Regions from separate parts of the Homo sapiens genome. Here region 2 is linked to region 1. The links come from fine-mapping of genetic effects on plasma protein levels. A gene starts in region 1. The other region holds a variant in brackets. All regions are shown on one strand. Distances are from middle to middle.

The links. PIP is the chance, under the fine-mapping model, that this variant and not a neighbour inherited with it causes the effect. The UK Biobank Pharma Proteomics Project read protein levels with antibody pairs (Olink). The fine-mapping took linkage between variants from a reference panel, not from the people measured, so its PIPs are less certain.
Region 2: its variant is fine-mapped to the plasma level of the ADA protein (UK Biobank, PIP above 0.99).

What each region holds. Positions count from the first base shown.
Region 1 is chr20:44,644,626-44,659,941 of GRCh38, forward strand. It overlaps ADA (adenosine deaminase), which reads right to left and starts at 7,074. Exons shown (of 12, transcript NM_000022.4): 1 at 6,950-7,074. The coding sequence starts at 6,982. It overlaps LINC01260 (long intergenic non-protein coding RNA 1260), which reads right to left. Exons shown (of 5, transcript NR_034104.1): 3 at 15,086-15,153; 4 at 14,370-14,556; 5 at 11,826-12,426. RefSeq lists enhancers at 196-275, 1,427-2,680, 3,433-3,933, 6,523-6,632, 6,863-7,846 and 2 more, cis regulatory regions at 431-989, 1,678-1,705, 2,089-2,684 and silencers at 1,286-1,365, 3,242-3,410, 6,883-7,272.
Region 2 is chr20:44,626,990-44,636,026 of GRCh38, forward strand. ADA (adenosine deaminase) reads right to left here. Exons shown (of 12, transcript NM_000022.4): 3 at 2,058-2,180. Among named protein-coding and RNA genes, the nearest start is that of ADA, 20 kb to the right of the region's middle. RefSeq lists enhancers at 2,015-9,037, 2,252-3,002, 3,003-3,752, 6,269-9,037, 7,160-7,489 and a cis regulatory region at 7,607-7,756. The variant G/A (reference allele first, on the strand shown) is at 7,406.

The DNA.
Region 1 (15,316 bases):
AGTGACTTATGCCACTATGGCCTCTCAACTGACTTTTAGTGTGAGGCCAGGAGACAGAGCAGCCCTGGGCTGAGAAACTGTTTCAGCTCCACTTCCTCCAGGAAGCCCTCTATGCTCAGCCTCATCTAGGCTCCGCCAGCTCCGAGGTACACAGTGGAAGGGACTGAGCAGTCCCCACAGTGTCTCCTGCTGACGGGGCCTGACAGCTCTGCTGCTGAGAGGTTTCACAGAAGGCAAGATGTGTCTTCCACCTGGGGAAATTCCTGTGGAGCCACAGCATAGGGACTCAGCACACTTAAACTCGTTTTAAAGGCAACAAGACTGAGGCTCAGAGAGTGGGAGGACCTTGAGTTAGAAAGTCTAATGCATACCACAGCCAGGAAGCTATTTGACTCTAAACCCGGAGGTCTAGCAGCACGCTCCCTGCATGCCACATAGCAAGGTGCTGGGTCACTGATGCTAACATCTAAACAGGGGCCAGGTGCGGTGGCTCACTCTTGAAATCCCAGCACTTTGGGAGGCTGAGGTGGGTGGATCACTTGAGGCCAGGAGTTTGAGACCTCCTCTTCACAGAGGTGGAAGGGAGGACCAGCGGGGGCAAGTGTATCCCAAGTCCCAGCTACTTGGGAGGCTGAGGCAGGAGGATCGCATGAACCCAGGAGGCAGAGGTTGCAGTGAGCCAAAATCGTGCCACTGCACTCCAGCTTGGGTGACAGAGGAAGACTCCAGCTCAAAAAAAAAAAAAAAAAAAAAGTCACTGAAGTCACCTGGTACCCAGGACTACTTCAAGGACAGCCATTGTTATGGCCAACATGGTGAAACCCTGTCTCTACTAAAAACACAAAAATTAGCCAGGCATGGTGGCGCACACCTGTAATCCCAACTACTTGGGAGACTGAGGCAGAAGAATCACTTGAACCCGGGAGGCAGAGGTTGTAGTGAGCCGAGATTGCACCACTGCACTCCAGCCTGGGCGACAGAGTGAGACTCTGTCTCAAAAGTCAAAGTAGGACCATTACCAACCATGATGATGATGCTGACCAATGGCAGCTATTGCTGCAGCACCTGCTCTGAGCCAGGCCTGCACTTGGTGTTTGAGAGGTGGGTATGGGTATAATTCTCATTTTAGAGAGGGGAAACTGAGGCACCGTGAAGTTAAATGACTCATTCAAGCTCCTCTAGCTGGAAAGTGGGAAATCAGGACTCAGACCCAGAGAGCCTGACCCCAGCTGGTGTCCAAGTTCAAATTCCTTGCTGTTCTAGCTCCCTGGTCACTAGGAGTGCAGAGGTTATCCCCCACAACTGCTCAGGGGCCTGAGAACATTAAGGGCTGAGGGCAAGCCTACCCCCAACACCTTGGGTAAATACAGATTCCAACCTCACTCTGCGCCCACAGCCTGCTCCTCTCCACCTCCCCAGCCAGACCATGGTCCTACTACCTTGCCCCGCCCCAGGGGGTACCACAGGGACCCCTTCAAGACACCTGAGCAGGTGGACAAGTCTCTCCTGGATCACAGGGCCCCCAGCCACCCAGGTCAAGCCCACCCTGAGGTTGAATGCAGGATTGGGAAGCTGCCTGGCCTCCCCTGCCTCCCTGTGTGAACACAGACCACTTCCTCTCTCTGATCCTCCCTTCCTCCTCCGAAGCAAAAGGCTTCGATGAAACTCAGTCTCCTTTGTTCCCCTCCACCACCAACTGCCATGTGAGTCAAAATGGGTAAGGCAGGCTCTTCCTAGGCACATTTTTGTTTTAACAGGTGGCTCTGGTAACTGAAAGCCACTGCAAGCCCAAAGAAGTGCAGCTGGTGGGTTTTGTGTCAGGAAGACAAAAAGGAGGAGGGAGGAGGGAGATTCTGCAGCTGGAGAGGCCTCCCAGAGTCTACTGCAACCCCCACTCCAGTCCCCAGGAAGGAAACGCACCCCTGAGGGCCTGCTGTTACCAGCCAGGCACTGTACAAAAACCAATCAGCATGTCAGTTTCCCCAAGAACCCCAAGATCTTGGTTTTGTCACCCCATTTTACAGAGGGGGAAGCTGAGTTTCAGGAGTTGTCTACCTGAGGTACCCTAGCTGCTAAGCGGCAGGCAGGAATTCAACCCCAGTACATCTGAAGCCCAGGGCTAATGCACTGGCCCACCCTGCCACCCTGATTCTAACTCTTCCCCCCACACTGCCCCCTCTTTTTTGCATAAAGTGGAATTGGCAAATGAGCAAAGCAATGAACAGCTTCTACTTGAGTGCAGGCAGATCTGGGTTCAAGTCTAGCTCTGCTGCTTGCCAGCTGTGTGACTTTGGCAAGTTCCCTCCCCTCTCTGAGTCTCAGTTTCCTCATAATAAGTGAAGTTAATAATAGGACAGGACCTTCCTCAGAGGGCTGACATAAACATTAAATGAGTCACTGTATGCAAAGCAGGACAGCGCCTCGTGCAGAGTAGACATTCAAATATGAGACAGAAAAGGCACATTGCTGATTTAGCCCCAATTCCCCTCTGCATCAGAGAGGGACAGTTTAGAAACTGCTGTCCCTTGGCCGGGTGCGGTGGCTCATGCCTGTAATCCCGGCACTTTGGGAGGCTGAGGTGGGCGGATCACCTGAAGTCGGGAGTTCGAGACCAGCCTGGCCAACAAGGAGAAACCCCGTCTCTACTAAAAATACAAAAAATTAGCCGGGCATGGTGGTGCATGCCTGTAATTCCAGCTACTTGGGAGGCTGAGGCAGAAGAATCACTTGAACCTGGGAGGCGAAGGTTGCAGTGAGCCGAGGTCGTGCCATTGCACTCCAGCCTGGGCAACAAGAGCGAAACTCTGTCTAAAAAAAGAAAAAAAGAAAGAAACTGCTGTCCCAGCCTGTACCTGTTCACTTGCCAGTCTACAGCTTCAAGGCTCTCAGATTTTGTGTAGCCCTGGCAAGTCCCTCCACTCCCTAAGCTTCAGTTTCTTCATCTGTAAATGGGGATGAAGACCCATGCCTTGTCAAGTCGTCCAGAGGATTCCGTGAGATAAAAGTTACTAGCCGGGCACAGTGGCTCACACCTGTAATCCCAGCGCTTTGGGAAGCCAAGGTGGGAGGATCACCTGAGATCAGGAGTTCGAGACCAGCTGGCTAACGTGGTGAAACCCTGTCTCTACTAAAAATACAAAAATTAGCCGGGCGTGGTGGTGGACGCCTGTAATCCCAGCTACTCCGGAGGCTGAGGCAGAAGAATGGCTTGAACTCGGGAGGTGGAGGTTGTAGTGAGCCAGGATCACACCACTGCACTCCAGCCTGGGCAACAGAGTGAGACTGCGGCACACGCCTGTAGTCCCAGCTACTTGGGAGGCTGAGGCAGGAGGATCGCATGAACCCAGGAGGCAGAGGTTGCAGGGACCCAAAATCTTGCCACTGCACTCCAGCTTGGGCGACAGAGTGAGATTCTGGCAAAAAAGAAAAAGTCACTGAAGGCACCTGGTACCCAGGACTACTTCAAGGACAGCTATTGTTATGATTATTGTAACAGGCATGTGATCAGCACTGGCCTCCAGGATGCAGAATGCCTGAGTGCCTGGTGCCACCTGTGAACATAGGCTGATAAGGGCCACCCCTGCAACCCCCCTTTCCACTTCTTCCAGTGCCCAGCAGGTGCTAAGTCAAACCAGGTGGGGGTATGGGAGGCACACCCGACAGGGCAAACTTGACTTGGGCATCCCCTGACGATGACCCTGCATGGCAGGCACACTTGAATGGGTGTTCAGAGTTCTGAGCGAAGGAATCCAAGAGTGGCCAACCTGGAGATCCAGTCGTTATCTATGAGGAACATCTGAGCCCCACCCCATTCCCACGGGACACTGACCATACAGGGGTATAGGGACCGAGGCCCTTTGTTTTGGGTTAAATGAAGGTTACTAGGTGGAGATGGTTGGGAGAAGGTGTTAAATGAAAATGCTACATAAACTGCATGATTTGCAAGTGGTTGCGGTTCTTCTGCTCAGTCTGCCGCCACTGGACTCTCTTCCCTGTGTCTAAGCCCCCAGTAAAACCCCGTATCTTGTTTGCTACCTCTTCCAAAGAAGGTAGCCTCTTGAACCTGGTGCTATATCCATTGGAGTCAATAGGGGTCCCGCACAACAGAAGGCAGCTGCCTAGGGCCTTGCTAAGCAAAGTGTGTTCCTGGATCGTTGACATTAGCATTTCCTGGGAGCTGGTCAGCAGTGCAGCATCGCAGGCCCCAACCCGACCCACACAGAATCACAGTGTGAACATTAAAAGTCAGGCCACTTGAGTGCAGTTTGAAAAGCGCTGCCCTGCTCTGCTTTCTTCTAGCTGACCAGGTCCCAGGCCTCAGCTGGTGGCAGGTATGAGAAGCTGAAGGACACAGCAAAGGCTCCTGTCTCAGGAGGTTTGCACCTGGGGCACTGGCACCTCTATCCCCAAAGGCTTCTGCAGAGGTAGTTTAGGAAAGATGGTTAGAGGCATGGGATTTCGAAGCCAGCCTCCCTTGGACTCAAACCCCAGATTGGACATTTCCTAGCTGTGTGATCTTGGGCCTAGTTAACCTCTCTGTGCCTGGATTAAATAAAAAATGCAGATAATGTGTTTAGAACGGTGCCTGGCACAGAAACATCAACACTCCATTAGCTGCAGCTAGTAATGCTAATAATTATAACTGTCATCTGTCCCTCCCACAAGAGGGCAGGGAGCTGGCTCTGGTCACAGTGGCTCTGAGATTCACACTCCTTCCCACTTCTCCTGCCAGCTCACACAAGTTCCTCCTCACAATCATACAAGATTTGTCACGCCTCAAACACATGGCAGGTAACATTCTACCTTCACTCTCAAGCATCACCTTGTGGCCTTGGGACTCAGGACACGGGACACCCACATAAGCAGCTGATGTTCCATCCTCCAGGTGTGGACACTGAGGTCCCAATAGGGAAAATGATCTGCCAGCTTGAATCAGATGGGAGGACTGAGCAAGGCCAAAAAATGGGGATAATAATATGAGCCCCTCCCTTGATGGGCTGTTACAGAAGAACTGCAAGGATCCAATGGGTGTCTGCAACAAGTGCTCTAGAAGTGGGCCCTGCTGTTCTCTCCATAACTCCCAACATGTTCGCAATCAAGGAGCCTTTTTTTTTTTTTTTTTTTTTTTGAGACAGCGTCTCACTCTGTCACCCAGGCTGGAGTGCAATGGCGAGATCTCGGCTCACTGCAAGCTCCACCTCCTGGGTTTATGCCATTCTCCTGCCTCAGCCTTCTGCGTAGCTGGGACTACAGGCGCCCGCCACCATGCCCAGCTAATTTTTTATATTTTTAGTAGAAATGGGGTTTTGCCATGTTGGCCAGGCTGGTCTCGAACTCCTGGCCTCATGATCCACCCACCTTTGCCTCCCAAAGTGCTGGGATTATAGGCGTGAGCCACTGCACCCCGCCAATCAAAGAGCTTTGCTATTGCCATAGGATTCACATCAGGGTACAGTGGGTCCCCAGCCCAAGGGCAGAGGGAGCCCAGAGCATTTAATAAAAAGACTGCAAAGGGGAGGCGCCAATCATGGGCCCCAGCTCCAGTAAGACGTGAAGGAGGCAGGGGTGGGGGTAGGAGGGCTTGTACAGCACCTCAGTGCTTCCAGCTTCTGACGGGGAGTAGCTGAGCATTTTCCCTGGGCTGGGGGCATCAGTAGTGGGGGCCAGGCCTCACCCTCCTCAGAAGGTAGGTGGGCTCTCCACAGCCTGTCTCCCTCACTGACACATGCACACTCACTGGATTCTCACCGGCACTTTTGTGATAGCTGTCATCATCATTCACACCTATTTCTTTTCTTTTCTTTTTCTTCTCTTTTTTTTGAGACAGGGTCTCGCTCTGTCTCCCAGGCTGAAGTGCAGTGGCACCATCACACCTCACTGCAGCCTCAACCTCCTGGGCTCAAGCGATCCTCCCGCCTCAGCCTCCTGAGTAGCTGGGACTACGGGAGTGCACCACCACACACACTTCCCCTAACTTTTTTTATTTTTTGGAGAGACGGGGTCTAGTTTTGTTGTCCAGGCTAGTCTCAAACTCCTGGACTCAAATGATCCTCCCGCCTCAGCCTCACAAAGTGCTGGGATTACAGGCGTGAGCCAACCTCCTGGGCCACTCACACCTATTTCTTAGAAGGGTAAGTTGAGGCTGACTGCAGCTGACTCCTTCCCCAACCACTCTCACACCCTACTGGCTGACTCACCCTGCTTGGCAGACTCCTGGGCCCCTCCTCTCGGACTCTGCGACAGGCCAAGGGGGTCCAGACCCTCCCTGACCCCAACAGTCCCAAGACGCCACAGCTGGTGGGCGGAGAAACAAGGGGATTCTCCCCTGGGGCCAGTGGCCATGGCTTGGCCTCGAGTGAACCCTGCTAGGGCCCCAAACCCAGGGCCTACCTAGCTCCTGTTCTTCCCGCGCGGGGGAAGGGGGGTGCTCTGCTCCCCTCCCTCCCCTTTCTGGCAGGGCTCACGGTTCTTCCCCGGGGCGCATCCACAAACCTGAGCTCCTTGGCGCTCACCACCATAACGCTGGCGTACAAAGCTGCTTCCATTCACTGAGCACTCAGTAGGCGCCGGGCACAGCACTAGGTGCCTATCCGGCGTAGACATCGGGCCTGATCATACAGCTGAGCTTCAGAGACCTCAAGTCCCTGCCCAGGCCCACACAGCGCTCAGCGGTGCTAGGATGCCCACTTGACAGACAGCGAAACTGAGACCCAGAGGGGTCAAGTCAGGGGCAGAAGCAGACTCTGGAGGCCTCCGGGTTCTGGACCTTCTCTGCCCCATTGTCCCTGATTAGCCCGCAAGCAAGCCACGGCCTAAGCCGAAGGAAGAACTCGCCTGCAGGAGCCCCCGTTCGTTCCCAGGGTTTGGACGCCCCGGGCTGGGCCCCGCTAAGCCCCTCGGGCCGCCCAGGCGCCGGACCCCCGTCCCCGGAGCCCCCGCGCGCGCTCACTTTGGGCTTGTCGAAGGCGGGCGTCTGGGCCATGGTGCCCTCGTGCGCCCCGGCGCTGCTCCCTCCGCCGCCGCTCGGTGGGTCTCTGCCGGCTCGGTGGCCGCTCGGCTTTCCCTGGGGCCAGCGGTGGCCGCGGCCGGCCACGCTCTTCTTAACGGGCCGGGCCCCGCCTCCCGCCCCGCCCGCCGCCGTTCCCGGGGCCCGCCCTCTCGCCGGAGCCCCCGCCCCGCCCGCCGGCCTGGATCGCGCATTTCCTGGAATTCTGGACCCGGCGTCCTCGCCCGCCGACCCGAAAACTACGGCCCCGCGGCGCCCGACCGGACCCACCTGTGGGCGCGCGCTCCAGCCGCCTCGCTGGGCGCTGCCTTCCCCCCGGCTCCTCCAGCAACTTTCAAGCGTCCCCCTGCAGTCTGGGCGCTGCTGTGCGCCAGGCCCAAGCTAGAAGCGGGGACCCCGGGAGCATCGCAAGCCTCGAGCGGCGTGCCTTCCACCGGATAGACGGACGCTCGTCGCAGAAACACACACCATAATTGTATAGTTAAGGAACTTTCGAGGGGGGCCAGCCGTGGCCTGCAGAACCTGCAGGAGTTCATCAGGGGTGGGTGGGGGTGGAGAGGACATTCTACGTGAGAGACTCCAGGGAGCTGGGAGTGAAAGGAGGCGAGGAAGGCTGGAGCTCGGAGGGAGGGAGAACACAGACAGTCCCCTCCTGGGCATTCACCTTTAAGAAACCCGCCCAGGCGCAGCCAGAGACCTGTGCAGAATGTTCACACCAGCGCTATTCCGAATAACAGGAACATTGGAAACACCCTCAAATGCCCCTCCACGGGCGAGTGGGCAAATAAACCGGAATATTCACACCATGAAACGTTAGACAGCAGTGAAACGGAATGAACTTCAGCCAGACAACAACAGAAACAATGTCTCAGAAACAATGTTGAGTGAAAAAAACTAAGTTGCGGAAAACTGCATACAATGGTGCAACTTTTAGAATGTGTAAAAGCAAAACCAAAAGTATGTATGTTTAGACACATGCATCGGTGGAAAAAATGTAAAGCAAGGGAAAGATGAGCATAGATACGAGAAGAGTGGTTATCTCAGGTGAAAGGGAAGGAGCCGGGAGGAGGTAAGGACGGAGGGAAATAACACGCGGGTACAGGTTATTTATTTATTTATTTATTTATTTATTTATTTATTTATTTATTTACTGAGACGGAGTTTCGCTCTTTCGCGGAGGCTGCAGTGAAGTGGCGCGATCTGGGCTCACTGCAACCTCTGCCCCTCTGGCCCGCCTCCTCCCCACCGCTCCCCCGCACCCCCAGCGTTTCAAGCGATTTTCCTGTCTCAGCCTCCCGAGTAGCTGGGATTATAGGCGCCCACAACCACGCCTGGCTAATTTTTGTTTTTTGTTTTTTTGTTTTTGTTTTTGTTTTTTTGAGATGGACTCTTGCTCTGTCGCCCAGGCTGGAGTGCAGTGGCGAAATCTCGGCTCACTGCAACCTCCACCTCCTGGATTTTAAGCAGTTCTCGGCCTCAGCGTCCCGAGTAGCTGGGATTACAGGCGCGTGGCACCGTGCCCTGCTAAGTTTTGGATTTGTAGTAGAGACGGGGTTTCACCATGTTGGCCAGGCTGGTCTCGAACACCTGACCTCACATGATCCACCCACCTCGGCTTCCCAAGGCGTGATTACAGGCATGAGCCACCACGCCTGGCCACACACAGGTTATTGATAATGTTCCAGTACTGGGGTGGATGGTAGCTTCATTTCATTTCATCATAAATAAATTAACAAACCCATAAACAAGGGGGAAAGAGAGAGTGGGAGAGTGGAGAGCAAGGGGCTAGAAGGTCTGATGGGAGCTGAATCCTGCCAGGGATGTGGGACCCAGCGATGGTGTGGGATTCCTAGGAAGTCAGTGGAGTGTTTTAAGTGGAGGCGAGACAAAATCACCCTTTTATTTGGAAAAAATATTCTCCAGCTACTGAAAGTGTGATCCAGGGATCATCAGCACCCACATCACCTGGGAGCTGACTACAAATGCAGACTTTCAGACCCCATCCCAGACCTACTGAAGTAGAATCTGTATTTTATACAAACAGGACCCCCAGGTGGTTCGCACCCACAGGGCACTTTGAGAAGCCTGGGCTCCCTGCTGTGAGGGGAGGGCATTACAGGGGGCCAGCGGGGGTGAGGGAGGACAGGATACCAGGAAGGAGGCAACTGCCATGGTCTGGGTAGGGCATAGTGATGTCAGTGGGGGAAGTGGAGAAACTCATATTCAAGCTGCATTTAGGGTGTAAAATCAGCTGGATTTGGGGTTTGGTTGTATGTGGGAGTGAGGGAGAGGGTGGCTGTATTAGTCCATTATTTTCATGCTACTGATGAAGACATACCCGAGCCTGGGCGCAGTGGTTCATGCCTGTAATCCCAGGACTTTGGGAGGCCAAGGCAGGAGGATCACCTGAGGTCGGGAGTTTGAGACCAGCCTGACCAACATGGTGAAACCCCGTCTCTACTAAAAAAAAAAAAAAAAATACAAAATTAGCCAGGCGTGGTGGTGTATGACTGTAATCCCAGCTACTCGGGAGGCTGAGGCAGGAGAATCGCTTGAACCTGGGAGGTGGAGGTTGTGGTGAGCCAAGATTACACCATTGCATTCCAGCCTGGGCAACAAGAGCGAAACTCCATCTCATGAAAAAAAAAAAAAAGACATACCTGAGACTGGGTAATTTACAAAAGAAAGAGGCTTTAATAGACTTACAGTTCCACAATGGTGGGGAGGCCTTGCAATCATGGCAGAAGGCAAAGGAGGAGCAAGTCACGTCTTACATGGATGGCAGTAGACAAAGAGAGAGCGCCTGCAGGGAAACTCCCATTTTTAAAACCATCAGATCTTGTGAGACTTATTTACTATCACAAGAACAGCATGGGAAAGACCATCCCCCATGATTCAATTATCTCCCGCCGAGTCTCTCCCACAACATGTAGGAATTATGGGAGCTACTAGATGAGATTTGGGTGAGGACACAAAGCCAAACCCTATCAGTGGGTCTCATACATTGTCAAAGCCAGGGGAGTTTTTTGTAAGATCCTTTCTTGGCTCTCTGTGTTACTCGGGTTCAATAATAGGGGCTGCCATTTACTGAGACAGGTTTGGAGCCAGGTACACTGGGAAGCACTTTATAAGCACCCATCCCATTTCATCTTTACAGTCATCCTCAGATGTAGGAGGTGTTCTCCTCATTTTACAGATGAGGACACTGAGGTTCAGATAGAGAGACAGCCTGCTTGGCTCATGGGTTGTAAGTGGCAAAACTGGGGTTTAAATTTGAATCTGACTCGAGAAACTTCACTCCCCACCTTATTGCCTCCCCAGCCTCTCATGACATTCAAGTCCCTCTTCAACATCAGTCCCACCACTTCCCACCACATTGCTGAAATGCCAATCAACCTAGATGAGTTGCTGGTTGCTTAAGGGTGACACAAATTATTTGCAATTCTTCACATTGCAAGATGGAGTCTAGGTTTCCTCCTCTTGGACCTGGGCTGGCCTGAGTGACTTGTTGGAGTAATAGAGCGTGATGGGAGCAAGCTTCCTGGATTTCCGAGCCTTGGTCATAAAGAAGCTTTGTGGTGTCCTTTGGGGCCTCTTGAACATTCTCTCTGGGAACCCAAGCTTCTAGAAGAGACCATCATGCTAAGAGAGTCCACATATGGCCATTCCAGTTGACAGTCCCACTGAGCCCAGGCTTCCACCATCCCTACGAAGACAGCAATCATGTTAGCGAAGCTGTGTTGGGCCATCCAGCCCAGCTGCCCACTGAAAACCAGGCTTTGGTCAATGCCATGTGGGACAGAAGAATTACCCAAGTAAGCCCAGCCCAAATTCCTGACCTATAGTATTGAGATATGTAATGAAATGGATGTTATTTTAAGCCATTGTGTTTTAGGGGGAGATTGTCACACAGCAGTAGGTAACAGGAATGCTTGCTTCTACCTGCCCCAGCCCTCCAGCCTCTGCACCTTAGTCACTTCCATCCTGACACCTGGAAAACCCTTTACCCAGATCCTAGACTATCAAAATTCTGCATTCCAAATGGGTCAGATCCAAAGGGCCAGGCTGCGTGATGCAGTTCTTCTGTTTGCCCCTGCAGGTGCACTCTCCACCCTTCTGCACGCTGCTCTGCTCCTCTGTGTCCGGCAGCCATGCTGCTGTGGGTGAGACCAATGGGCTCTCCTGCCCTCTGGCTCTGGTTGGGTTTTGTCAACAGGGAGCACCAGCAGGAGAACAGCAGATGAGAGGAGAGAGGTCAGGATATTCATTCCCCCTTTCCCTCGGTGCACAGTCACTGGGCTGACTGTGTCTCTCTACCAAGGCCACATCTCCTGTCAGTCCTCCTGGCCCACCTCTCCATACCCTCCCCATTCCAGATTCCCTCTTGCCTATTGATTGATTGATTGATTTTGAGACAGAGTCTCACTCTGTCGCCCAGGGTGGAGTGCAGTGGTGCAATCCCAGCTCACTGCAACCTCCACCTCCTGGGCTCAAGCAATTCTCATGCCTCAGCCTCTGGAGTAGCTGGAATTACAGGCACCCACCACTATGCCCGGCTAATTTTTGTATTTTTAGTAGAAACTTGGTTTTACCATGTTGGCCAGGCTGGTCTTGAACTCCTGACCTCAAATAATCCACCCACCTTGGCCTCCCAAAGTGTTGGCGTTACAGGCATGAGCTACCGTGCCTGGCCTCCTGCCGTTTTCTTGAAAGGCAGTGGTTCCCTTTGTTACCAGAGTCCCACGCCACCCGTTGTTGCTTTCCTTAAACTCTCCTCGCTAGGTTCAGGTTTCCCCAGAAGCAGAGCCTGAGACAAAGATTTCAATGCAAGTAGTTTATTTGGGAAGAGGAAACATGGGAAGGATGTGGGTGCGAAACAAGACAGGAAAGGGGAAGAAGCTGACATGAGCAGGTCACCACACTGAGCACCTGGAGCTCTATCCCTGGGCAGCACTCTGGGAGATGATGAATATGTTGCAGGCTTAACCCAGCAGAGGAGCGAGGAAGCTGGGGAATCTAACTGCCCCCTCCCCTCTGGCAATGCTTCCAGGACATTAACTTCCTGGCACTCTTAGTTTGTTCAACATGACCGGCTGAGTTTCTTGCATGGCTAGAAAATATTTGCAGCAATGAGAGAGAGACTCTGTTAGCAGTAAGTAGCTATTGCCATGTAGAGGTGATTTTGAGGGCATATGGGCAGCTACACCAGCCCACACCTATGTAAATAACTCCCATATTAAACCCTCTTCAATTACTCAGTTTGAGTGTGGCACCTGGTTCCTGCCAGGACCCCGAGTGATACAGGCTGGTCTTGAGCTTCTTCATAGCAATACAGAGTGGACCAGTGACTACAGAAAGCTTGAGAGGGGCTGGAGAGAGATGCCTTCCCCAATATTCATTATCCACACAGCACGCCACTCCTGTGAGAAGACAACAGAGATTGTGTATGTTTGAGAATGTCTCTCTACCTCCAATGTAGCCCTCCTGAAAAATCTAGTTCAAGATCTATTCCAGGCCAGGCGCAGTGGCTCACACCTGTCATCCCAGGACTTTGGGAGGCCGAGGCGGGCGGATCACCTGAGGTCAGGAGTTTGAGACCAGCCTGGCCAACATGGTGAAACCCCATCTCTACTAAAAATACAAAAATTAGCCGGGCATGGTGGCATGCACCCGTAATCCCAGCTACTCGGGAGGCTGAGGCATGAGAATCCCTCTGGGCCACAGAGGGAGACTCTGTCTCAAATAAATAAATAAAAATCAAGATCAAAATGTATATGATCAGGAGCCTCAGCTCCACCACTTACAGCTCTGTGGCTTTGGGAAAGTTGTTTTGAGCCTTGATTTTCTCATCTGTGTAGTGGGGATAACATATACATACTAATTAATAGGATAAACCATAGACACGCCTCGCTCATAGGAGGAGAAGAACATCCTCACACAATGGGAGAGGTGGGGATTGTGGAAAGGAGAGAGCAAATGCCTCGTCAAGATGCTGCTGTGCTGAAACATAAATCCAGTGTTGCCAGATCCTCCAATCATCCAAAAAAGCCGGAGACCCATCTTTTAATGTTTAAACTGTATTCAAATGTGTCCTAATGTTTAAAACTTTGTATAAGCCAAAGAAAACATCTGTGGGCCAGATTTTGCCCCACACAGCCAAGGTCCCTGCTGATTCTGATCTTCTAAGATCTCTGAATAAGAAAGAGGACAAGGGACAGGTTGCCCTTTCACTCACATTTATCAGACAGGATTAGGATCAGTTGCACACAACAGAAAACACCCAAATAATAGTGGCTGAAAAAAGACAGAAGTTTATTTCTCTGTTGTGTAAAAAGGCCAGAGGCAGGCAATGCCACTGATGTGACAACTCTGTGAAGATGCCTCCTTCTATCTCTCTGCTCTGCCATCCCTAGCATCCAGCCCCTATCCTCATTGTGCAGTATGGCTGCTGGGGCACCAGCCTTCACATCTGCAGTCCAGAGAGCAGGGCTGAGGAAAGGATGCAGCAGCTAGTGCTTGTCTCTCTTTTTTTTTTTCTTGAGACAGAGTCTCACTCTTTTGCCCAGGCTGGACTGCAGTGGCACTATCTTGGCTCACTGCAAGCTCTGCCTCCGGGGCTCACGCCATTCTCCTGCCTCAGCCTCCCAAGTAGCTGGGACTACAGGCGCCTGCCACCACGCCTGGCCACTTCTGTCTTTTAAAGATCTAGATACCTGGTTTTCCTCACAACAAATTCTGCTTATATAGTCACATGGCCACATCTAATCGCAAAGGAAACTAGGAAATGTCTTATACCTGTAAGGCAAGGTACCCAGCTAAAAAAAAGGAGATTGTGTTACTAAAGAAGAGGATAGTAGGCCCACTGCAGTGGCTCATGCCTGTAATCCCAACACTTTAGGAGGTCGAGGTGTTCGATCACAAGGTCAGGAGTTCGAGACCAGCCTCACGAACATGGTGAAACCCCGTTTCTACTAAAAATACAAAAATTAGCTGGGCACGGTGGTGCACACCTGTAATCCCAGCTAATTGGGAGGCTGAGGCAGGAGAATTGCTTGTACCTGGGAGGCAGAGGTTGCAGTGAGCCATGATTGTGCCACTGCATTCCAGCCTGGGTGGACAGAGCAAGACTCCGTATTGGGGGAAAAAAAAAATTAGAGGATAGTAGATCTAGAAGGCTGCTCATTTCTGCCACATCAAATAGCCTGGTAGGTGAGGAGGGTATATGGATAGGTGGAAAGAGTGTTACCAGGAAGCCAGATTCTGCTGTCCATATCATATGTCTTTAAGCCTCTTTCTGACCAGGAGAAGAAAATAAGAGAGCAAGATAGAAAGAGGCCTGAGTATAATCATAGAGACAACTTACCAAGGACCTGTTGCATGCCAGGCCCAGCACTGAGTCTTGTGCCAACATTGTTTTAGTCCATTTTGTGCTGCTATAGCAGAATACCTGGAACTGGGTAATTTTTATGGAACAGAAATGTATTGGCTCATGGTTCTGGAGGCTGGAAAGTCCAATATCAAGGTGCTGGCATCATTCAAGGGCCTTCTTGCTGCATCATTCCATGGTAGAAGATGAGAGAGTCCGAGAGGGTAAGAGAGGGAGCAAGAGATTGATCTCACGGCCTCAAGCCTTTTTATACTCAGCATTAATCCACCCATGAGTGTGGAGCCCCCATGACCTAAACACCTCCCATGAGGCCCCACCTGCCAACACTGTTGCATTGGGGATTAAGTTTCTAACACATGCTTGTTGGGGAACCACATTCAAACCATAGCAAACATCATCTCAGATTATTCTTTTCATCCAGCCTATCCGGTGGGTGGGCCTCGTGTTATTGTGGGGTGGGGTCACATCTTGCCTGTGCCAGCTGGGGTAGGAGGCCTGGACATCCAATTGTCTCCCAGATTGATAACCAACCCACCCTTCTGTCTTCTGCCCTACCTGACACCACTTGGTCTTCAGAGATTTCTGGTCCCTCCAATCCCTGAGCCTGAGATTCTGCAATTTGCTTTGTCCTAAAGGCTCCCCGTGAGCAGCCAGGTTTCAACTTCCTGGGTTTCTTGTCAGTCCCCACTCACCATCTGCCTTCCAGCTTCCGGAATTTGGTTGATTCTTCTCATCTGCTATTTTCTTCCTCATACGTTTTCTTTGTCCCAGTAGATAGATGTGCATTTAAAAAAAAAATCCCTGTGTCATTTTCTTGGAATTTCAGAGAACAATGGAGAGAAATAAGTGTGTTCAACCTGCCATGTTTAAACAGCAGTCTCCAGCCTCAGTTCTTGACTGGGGGAATCCTCAGCCCTCAGGAG
Region 2 (9,037 bases), 21 kb before region 1:
CCACAAGGCCTGCATCCTCCAGGCCTTGCCAGCCTCCCCAGCACCTTCCTTCTCCCTCATTCCCTGAGGCCACCGGAGAAGACACAGGCCTGCTCTTCCCCGATACTGTCCTACACTGCGTCTCTCCCGCTCCCCTGGTTTAGAGCCAGCTGAAGCTTCACCTCCTCAGAGAGGCCTTCCCTGACCACCTTATCTTTTTTTTTTTTTTTTGAGACAGAATCTTGCTCTGTCGCCCAGGCTGGAGTGCAGTGGCGCCATCTCAGCTCACTGCAGCCTCTGCCTCCTGGGTTCAAGTGATTCGTCTGCCTCAGCCTCCCAAGTAGCTGGGATTACAGGCGCATGCCACCACGCCCGGCTAATTTTTTGTATTTTTAGTAGAGACAGCGTTTCGCTGTGTTAGCCAGGATGGTCTCGATCTCCTGACCTCATGATCCGCCCACCTCAGCCTCCCAAAGTGCTGGGGATACAGGCGTGAGCCACTGTACCTGGCCCAGACCGCCTTATCTTAAAACGGCCCCTCCACCATTCTCCTGGGCTTTCTTTTTCTCCCAGGTCCTTATCACTACTCAACATTGTGTGTCATATGGCTTATCAGCCAGTTTGCTGTATTCCCTACTAGAATGCAGTCTCCATGTGGCAAGGACCCCTCTGTCTTGGGATGGCTGCGACCTCTCAGCTGAGGACCATGCCTAGGACAGAGTAGCCCAATATTTGTTGGTGATGGAGTTAAGGCTGGCAGGGAAGAGAAATGAGAGAAAAGGACACAGCTGGACAAGTCCAGAGGGATGCCTGGATGTGGGAGACACGTGGGATACAGTCATGGACTTGGATCCTTGTGCCCACACTTATCTGCTGTGTGACCCCTGGTTAGTCACCCTCTGACACCTAGGTCAAGGAGTTATTGCGGGGACAAATGAGTCAAACTTCATAAACCCCACCCGGGTCAGTGCTTGGAGCAGAGCGGACAAATGCTCAAAACATTTTCGTTGTTATTACTGCATGTTTGTTCCAGAAGCAAGGCACAAATTGGCCTGCCAGGGCCACTGTGTTGATCACGTAACGGTGGACTGTGCTTAGCTGGAAGTTCCCACCATGAAGAGTGAAAATGAAGTGGTTACTAGAATGTGTGAGGGAAGGCACACAAGTGCTGGGAGAGCCCAGCGTGGGAAGAAAGTGCCCTGCCCAGGGGAGATCAGGCCACTCTCAGGAGAAGGGGTCACCAGAAGTTCTTGCATCTTCAGGATGAGGATGGAGGCCAGGCGCAGTGGCTCACGCCTGTAATCCCAGCATTTTGGGAGGCCGAGGCGGGCAGATCACCTGAGGTCAGGAATTCGAGACCAGCCTGGCAAACATAGTAAAACCCCATCTCTACTAAAAATACAAAACCATTAGTTGGGTGTGATGGTGGGTGCCTGTGATCCCAGCTACTTGGGAGGCTAAAGCAGGAGAATCCCTTAAACTGGGAGGTGGAGGTTGCAGTGAGCTGAGATCGCACCACTGCACTTCAGCCTGGGCAACAGAGTGAGACTCTGTCTCAATAAATAAATAAATAAATAAATAAATAAATAAATAAAGCAGTCATGGAAATTTCTCTCTAGTACTCGCCCATACCCCTTCTGGGCCTTTTCGGTACCTAGTGCTGTTCCCTGGCGACTCAAGACAAGAAAAAGAAAAAGCCTTTTGGAGAATCTTCCCCACATCTCCCCGCCCCCACCCTATATTCAGGCCTCTCCTCCCCTCACAACACGAAGCCCTGAACTAGGAGATAGATGGCCCGGGTTCAAGCCCTGCACTGCCTCTGACCCTGTGTTCTTAGCTCCCATATTCTGCCATTTCTCTGTAGAACTTGAAGCAATTTCAGTCCATCACACCCACATCTCAGAAGGGAAAACTGAGGCCTAAAGGCACTGGAGAGACTCACTAAGTGTACACAATGGTGAGAAAGACAGCTGTGGTTTCAGAGCAACTTCTCTGGCCCCCACAGGCTGAGGGACAGGCCTGGTCCTAGTCATAGGGATCAATGCTGCCCTAGGACCTGTGGGTTGGGGGCAACTCACGCGATAGCAGGCATGTAGTAGTCAAACTTGGCCAGGAAGTCTGGAAGGGTGAGCGGCTTGTCCATGCCAATGACGTTCAGCAGCCCCTCTGCTGTGTTAGCTGGGAGGGCGATCCCTCTCCTCCTGGAAACAAAACAGTGAGTGGTGGACCAACCCGGGGCAGGATCCAGGCAGGCCTGACAGGCCAGGATGGAGCAGACTCAGGAGCGCCAGCCTCCTTGCAGGACCACAGCAGGAGACATGGGCGTCTCTCAGTCCAGCTGCTCCCACTGGACAGATGGGGAAACTGAGAACCAGGACCGGAATTTTTCCAGCACCTTCTACCCCCAATGCACAAGTCAGCAAATCTCAAGGGGGATAAACAGGTTGAAGTGTGTGTGTGTGTGTGTGTGTATGTGTGCACACATGCACACACCCCCTCCATATCCTTGGTTGACTGATGCTTGGAGACAAGGAAAGTGCCAGGTCAAGTTCATGGCTTCCTCCTCAGCCCCAGGAGCTGGCTCAGCCAGCTGGTCCTATGCCCAGTCAGGGGTTATCAGGGGCAGTAACTGCAGCATCACAATTCCCAGGGTAGGGGCAGGCATCAGGACTTCACCCTCCATCTGGCTGGCACATCAGAGGCTTGCCCAGCCCAGCGCACTGGGAGAGGGCCGGTGGAGGCTCAGGGGAGGGGCCCAGTGGGCCGCCAGCCAGCTCAGACCTCTCTCCCCTCCCTGCCCACAGCCGCCACACCAAGCTGGACTACAGCAGCGCTCAGTAAGAGCGTGCTGGAAACAGCCCCTCTGGCTTGGAGCCTCCATTTCTCCCCAAGCATCTCGGCCTCCCCTCCCAGCCACGGGAAGCAGGGTGCGAGCTCAGGGGGGCTCCCTCTCTTCTGCACACGCTCCTGCCTCCTCATCCCATCCCGGCTCTGCTCCAGCTCACAAGGTCACCTCGAGCCTCAGTTTCCCCCCCCTTTTTTTTTTAAGATACAACAGCCAGAGAACACCAGACATTAAGAAATGCTTCTAGGCTGGGCATGGTGGCTCACGCCTGTAATCCCAGCACTTTGGCCTCCCAGGCCAAGGTGCGAGGATCATGAGGTCAGGAGATTGAGACTATCCTGGCCAACATGGTGAAACCCCGTCTCTACCAAAAATACAAAAATTAGTTGGGTGTGGTGGTGTGTGCCTGTAATCCCAGCTACTCAGGAGGCTGAGGCAGGAGAATCACTTGAACCAGGGAGTCAGAGGCTGTGGTGAGCCGAGATCATGCTACTGCACTCCAGCCTGGTGACAGAGCAAGACTCTGTATCACAAAAAAAAAAAGAAAAAAAAAAGAAATGCTTCTAACATGAGGGACAAAACAACAGAATAGACAAAAGCACTCCGAGGAAACAGCACAGAGAACAGATGAAAACCTAAGAACCAAAACAAAAAAGACATGAATATCCTCAAAGAGATGAGAAGATCCTTGAAAGGAGGGAACATTCAGAACCCAAGAACGAGCCCTCGGAAATTTACAAGAGAATGCGGCAGCAACTGTCACGATGTAAGAAAAGAACTGGAAGCTAAAAGTGAAGAAATCCTCCACAAAGTAGAACAAAAAGACAAGATGATGAAAAATAGGAGTAAACAGTTAAGGAAATTAGAAGATTAAATCAGGAGGTCCAAGCATCCAATTATCCACAAAGCAGAAGCAGAAAAATAGGAGGCCGGGTGCAGTGGCTCATACCTGTAATCACAGTACTTTGGGAAGCCAAGGCTGGCGGATCACTTAAGCCCAGGAGTTTGAAACCAGCCTGGGCAACACAGTGAAACCCCTTCAAAACAAAAATTCACCAGGCGTGGTGGCGTGCACCTGTAGTCCCAGCTACTTGGGAGGCTAAGGTGGGAGGACCACCTGAGCCTGGAAGTCAAGGCTACTGCGGGCCAAGATTGCACCACTGCACTCCAGCTTGGGTGACAGAGCAAGACCCTGTCTCAAAAAAATAAAAAAGAATAAAGGAGGAAAGTGCCAAAGAAACAGAAGTTTGACCAAATAGTGTTTTAGTGTATGTAAGTAAGTTTGTAAGTCCTTTAATAGCTTCTGTTACTAAAATATTAAAATGCTTCCCTACATAAATATGTTTCCTAAGCCCCCTGAATGTGCTCCCTTCCCCATCTGTTAGCCCAAGTCCCCATGAGTGCCCAGAGGGTACCACCAAGGGGTCATGCTGGTGCCCACCAGCCTGCTAGTCAGCCCCTAATCACTGCTCCTTACCAGCCCCTAATCCCTGTAAGAGCCTGCAGGGGAACGGTGCCCTGGTGCGGCATTGGCACCTGGAGGTCGGAGCTCAGTGCCTCAGGTACCCCTGAGACTGCTTCCCCTCCCACTGCTGGCCAGCTGCCCCAAAGTCACCCTCACAAGGCCTTGCCCAGTAACTGTGGCCGCTGAAGAGCCTGTACCAGTTGTCAAACACTGTTGGGGATATCACTCTGGGAACTGCTGGGTAGAAGGCAGGGAGATGACACTAGGGCTCTGGCTCCCATATTGCCAAACCCAGTGGCCACATTTGCCTGGGACCTGCTGCGCCAGCCATGTGCGATTCTCCTAATGGTCTCCCTCCAGCCCCCAGAACTCCACCTGCGGGGGCTCTGCCCTCTGGTCGTTCTCTCTCAGACTCTGCCTTTTACACACCTGGCCAGGCCAACTCATCTCCTTTGGTGGTTTTCAGCTCCGGATCCAGAGGTCCACAGCTTCTAATTCTCTATGCCCATACACCACCACTGAGGGCCTGTGATGTGCTGGGCACTGGGCAGATAGCAGTGACCAAGACAGACCCATGTGTCTGGCTACCTGTTGAGAGGCAGGCATCTCGCGCCACCTTTCCCCTCCCTCTAGATCACTCCCTTCCTGGGTTCCACATTTCCAAATACGGCTCCTCCATCTACCCAGCTGCCCACACCAGAGACGGGCGCCTCCCCGTGCCCAGCACCAGCCCGTCCCCTAGAACAAATTATTTTGCTTTCTATTTCTCCTCTTCGATTCTTCTTCTCCAGCCTCCCTCCTCAACAACCATCAAGAAGGAACTTCTCAACACAGAGTTTAGACAGAGCAGCCAGGGAAGGCCTCTCTGAGGAGGTGACATTTCAGCAGAAGCCTTGGGGTGGGGGCAGTTCTGGGCAGGGGAGGGGTCTGTACTAAAGCTGCAGGCAGGAAGCCGCGGGCATTGGAAGTGCAGGGTGGCTGGAGGTCAGAGAGCAGGCATTTGTGCAGATGATGCACCAGGGAGGCAGGGCCAGGCTGGGCTTAGGAAGGGACTGGGGCTTTGGCTGAAAGCACTGGGAAGGCACTGTAGGATTTCAAGCAGGGGACTAGCATGAAATAATTTACCTTTTTGAAAGCTCCTCTGGCTGCTGCGTGGGAAACAAATTGGAGGGAAGCCAGAGCTGAGGCCAGAGAGCTAATGTGGGGGCCCGACAGGAGACAAAGAGCACAGGGGACTCCCAGTGTCTCCCATGGGACACAGCTTCCCGAAGCTGCTCAGACTGAGCTGGAAAGCGCCCATCTGGAGCCCAAAGTTGAAGCAGGAAAGAGCTGTTCCTAGGGCCCTGGCACCTCTTGCTGTCCCTGGCCACCCACACAAGCGAAGGCTCCTCATAGGGCCACCCTCTGTTTTTTCTTTTGTTTTGTTTTTTTGAGACGGAGTCTTGCTCTTGTTGCCCAGGCTGGAGTGCAATGGCACGACCTCGACTCACTGCAACCTTCACCTCCCTGGTTCAAGTGATTCTCCTGCCTCAGCCTCTCAAGTAGCTGGGATTATAGATGCCCACCACCATGCCTGGCTAATTTTTTATATGTTTAGTAGACACGGGGTTTCCCCATGTTGGCCACGCTGGTCTTGAACTCCTGACCTCAGGTGATCCACCCGCCTTGGCCTCCCAAAGTGCTGGGATTACAGGCGTGAGCCACCATGCACGCTCTGTTCTTAGATGATCCCTACTCCCTGGTCAGCCACAGCTGCTGTGCTGGGGCACTGTCTGGTCCTCTTCCGGCCTTGGTGGGCAACACAGTCACAAGAAGCCCACCATCAGGAGCCCAGGGAGGGAGGGAGGATGAGCTCAGGGGTTGCAGGTCAAGTCCATCTCCCACCCCTATTTACCACATCATCCCAGGCAGGAGCGCTCCCCTCTAAGGCCCTTGGTGCCCTTGTCAGTAAAACATAATATTTTCCATGTAGGGGTGCACAGAGGAAGAAATGAAACTTTGTGTGTCATGAGAAAGAGCAGACTCTGAAGCCCAGTGGTCTGGGTTTGAATCCCAGCTCTGTGACTTAAAGGCTGTGTGACCTTGGGCAAGTAACCCAGACTCTCTGTTTCCTAGGTCTGGCATGTTTGAAAAACATCCAGTGTGGACTAAGCAAGGAGCCTTAGAGAGGTCAGAGAGGCAATGCAGGCTTTGCAGAACTTTAAGGCCCATGTGTGGACTTTGGCTTTGACTCTGAGTGAGATGGGGAAGCTGGGGAATGAGCTGGGAAGACCATGGGTTAAGGCTCTTGCTCCAACTACAGCACTGCAGGGCCCGTAGAGAGGAAGGCCAGAGTAGATGGCTGAGACCAATCAGGAGGCCACAGCACCAGGGAGGGGCAGTGGTGGCCCAGACCAGGGCAGTGATCGGAGGAAAGAGCAGCCAGTTTCAGAATCTCTGTAGAAATAGTTGACAGGGTTATAAACAAGACTGAGAAAGAGGTTGGAGAGGCCCCTGAAAAGGCCAGAATCCTGGGAACTGGAGGAAGGAGAAATGGGTGAGGACAGTTAATGAGGCAGGCCTGAGTCCCAGAGCTGGAAAAAGGGCCACTGAATTGGGCCTAGCAGGGCTCAGGCCAGGGGCTCCCCTCCTCCTTCCATTCTTAGCCCATATTTGTGTGCATTTACAGACACCCATATCTGAGTGTGACAAACTCCCCAGTCCCCTGCCTGCTGACTTCAGGCCAAGCTCCAGCTGGCACCTGCCGCACGCCATCTCCAAGGCCCAGAGGTGGTGTGAGGAATGGACGATCAGACCAGTGCCCCTCCCGGCGGCTCCTTTCCCCTTTCTCTTAGCCCCACCCGGCGCTCCCAGCCCCTGGCTGCAGCTGATGAGCCCTCCGTGACCCCTTAATGAGTGCCTGGGTTCGATCTCATCTTGGTGCCCCACTGAACGACCTCATTAGGGGCCTTGTGGCAAGTTGGCGGCTTGACATGGGCAAAGGCCAGGCAGAGATAAGCCAAGAGGTTTCACCCCACTTAGAGATATAAGCTCCAATTAATAAGAATATTATCATTAAGTGACATTTATGGAGCACATTAATGTGTGCTAGGCCCTGAACTAAGCATTTTACGGGC[G/A]TCACTTACCAAAACCTCTAACTGACAGGGGGTAATGGCCAGGGCCATGGACTCGGGGGCAGACTATCTGGGTTCAAACCTCCGCCCTGTGCTTACTGGGCACCTTACTCCACCTACCACGGCTCAGTCTCCTCATCTGTAAATGACGGCAATAGAGTTCCTATCTTACAAATTGTTGTGAGGCTTCAATAACTTAACCCGGGTAACGCACTTAAAGGAGTGTTTGGCACACAGGAGGTGCTACTGTGCTTATGCCTTGCAGTTAAATAGGAATTAAATCAATGGCAGCTTCCTGGGGCAGAAGAAGGTCCCTGGAAGTGCGAAAAGATGGAGAATAGTGGACTTACCAGAAATCTCTCAGGGAGTTGGTGGAGATGCTCCCGAGAGTTGGGGGCAACCCCCCGGGATCCCTCATTCTCTCCATGAGGGCAGGCCTCTGAATAACAGGATTCTGGCTTATGGAGCAGAAATGTTCAAATTTGGGTCCCGAGCTGAATTTCAAGACTGTGACAGAGAGGCTGAGTTCTTTCAGCTCCAAACAAAATGAGTGTTGTGCAAACATCCGAGGAACACAGGTCTGCGGGGGCAGGGCTGGGTGGACAAGGAGCCCCTAGCTCCTAGGTCATCTCTCTAGGGAGGGCCTGTTCTTAGCCTCAGTTGATAGAGACCAAGTTCGCAGACAGGAGATAATATGTCCAAATTTGAATCCAGATCCACTGGCCTTTAAAGTCCCTGCCCTTAAAAGCTGGTCCTAAGAGAGGAGCTGCTGTGAGCCCTTGAGGTCTGGGTAGGAAGGGAAGAACCTTCCTCGCTGGGGAACAGGGGGACCCTCTGGCCCCCTAGCATCTCTGAGAGCTGAGGCAGGAAGTGTGTTCTCACTTGGAAGATGCAGAGATTTAGGCCCAGAGTTGGGGAGCCACTTTTCCGTGACTCCTAGCAGGTTATGACCCTGATGATGTAGTAAAGCCTTAGGGGTCAGACAGCCTTGGGTTCAACTCTTGATCTGCTATTAATTTGTGTGACCGTGGACAACTGTCTTGGCTGAGCCCATTCCCTCCTCAGTAAAATGCAGAGAGCGTATCCTCCTCTTCCAAGCGTGGAGGAATTCAATGAGCTGATAAAGCCCAGCCCAGCTCTAGGAGATGCTCAAGAAATTGTACTGGCATCTCATGTGAGCACATCACCTGCTATATATAGGCTCTCAGTTAAGTCAAAAGACAGGAGCCAGGCACAGTGGCTCATGCCTGTAATCCCAGCACTGTGGGAGGCCAAGCTGGGTGGATCACTTGAGGTCAGGAGTTCGAGACCAGCCTGGCCAACATGTGAAACCCCATCTCCGCTAAAAATACAAAAATTAGCTGGATGTGGTGGCATGTGCTTGTAATCCCAGCTACTCAGGAGGCTGAGGCAGGAGAATCACTTGAACCCAGGAGGTGGAGGTTGCAGTGAGCCGAGATCATGCCACTGCACTCCAGCCTGGGCGACAGAGCAAGACTCTATCTCAAAAGAAAAAAAAAAAGACGGATTCAGCCCTGGGAACTACCTTCATGCACGTATGTGGGTGGGTGGGGAGAGCAGGCTCAGGCCTGGCTCACCTGACACCAGGAGGACAAGACTCAGAGGCCCAGAAAG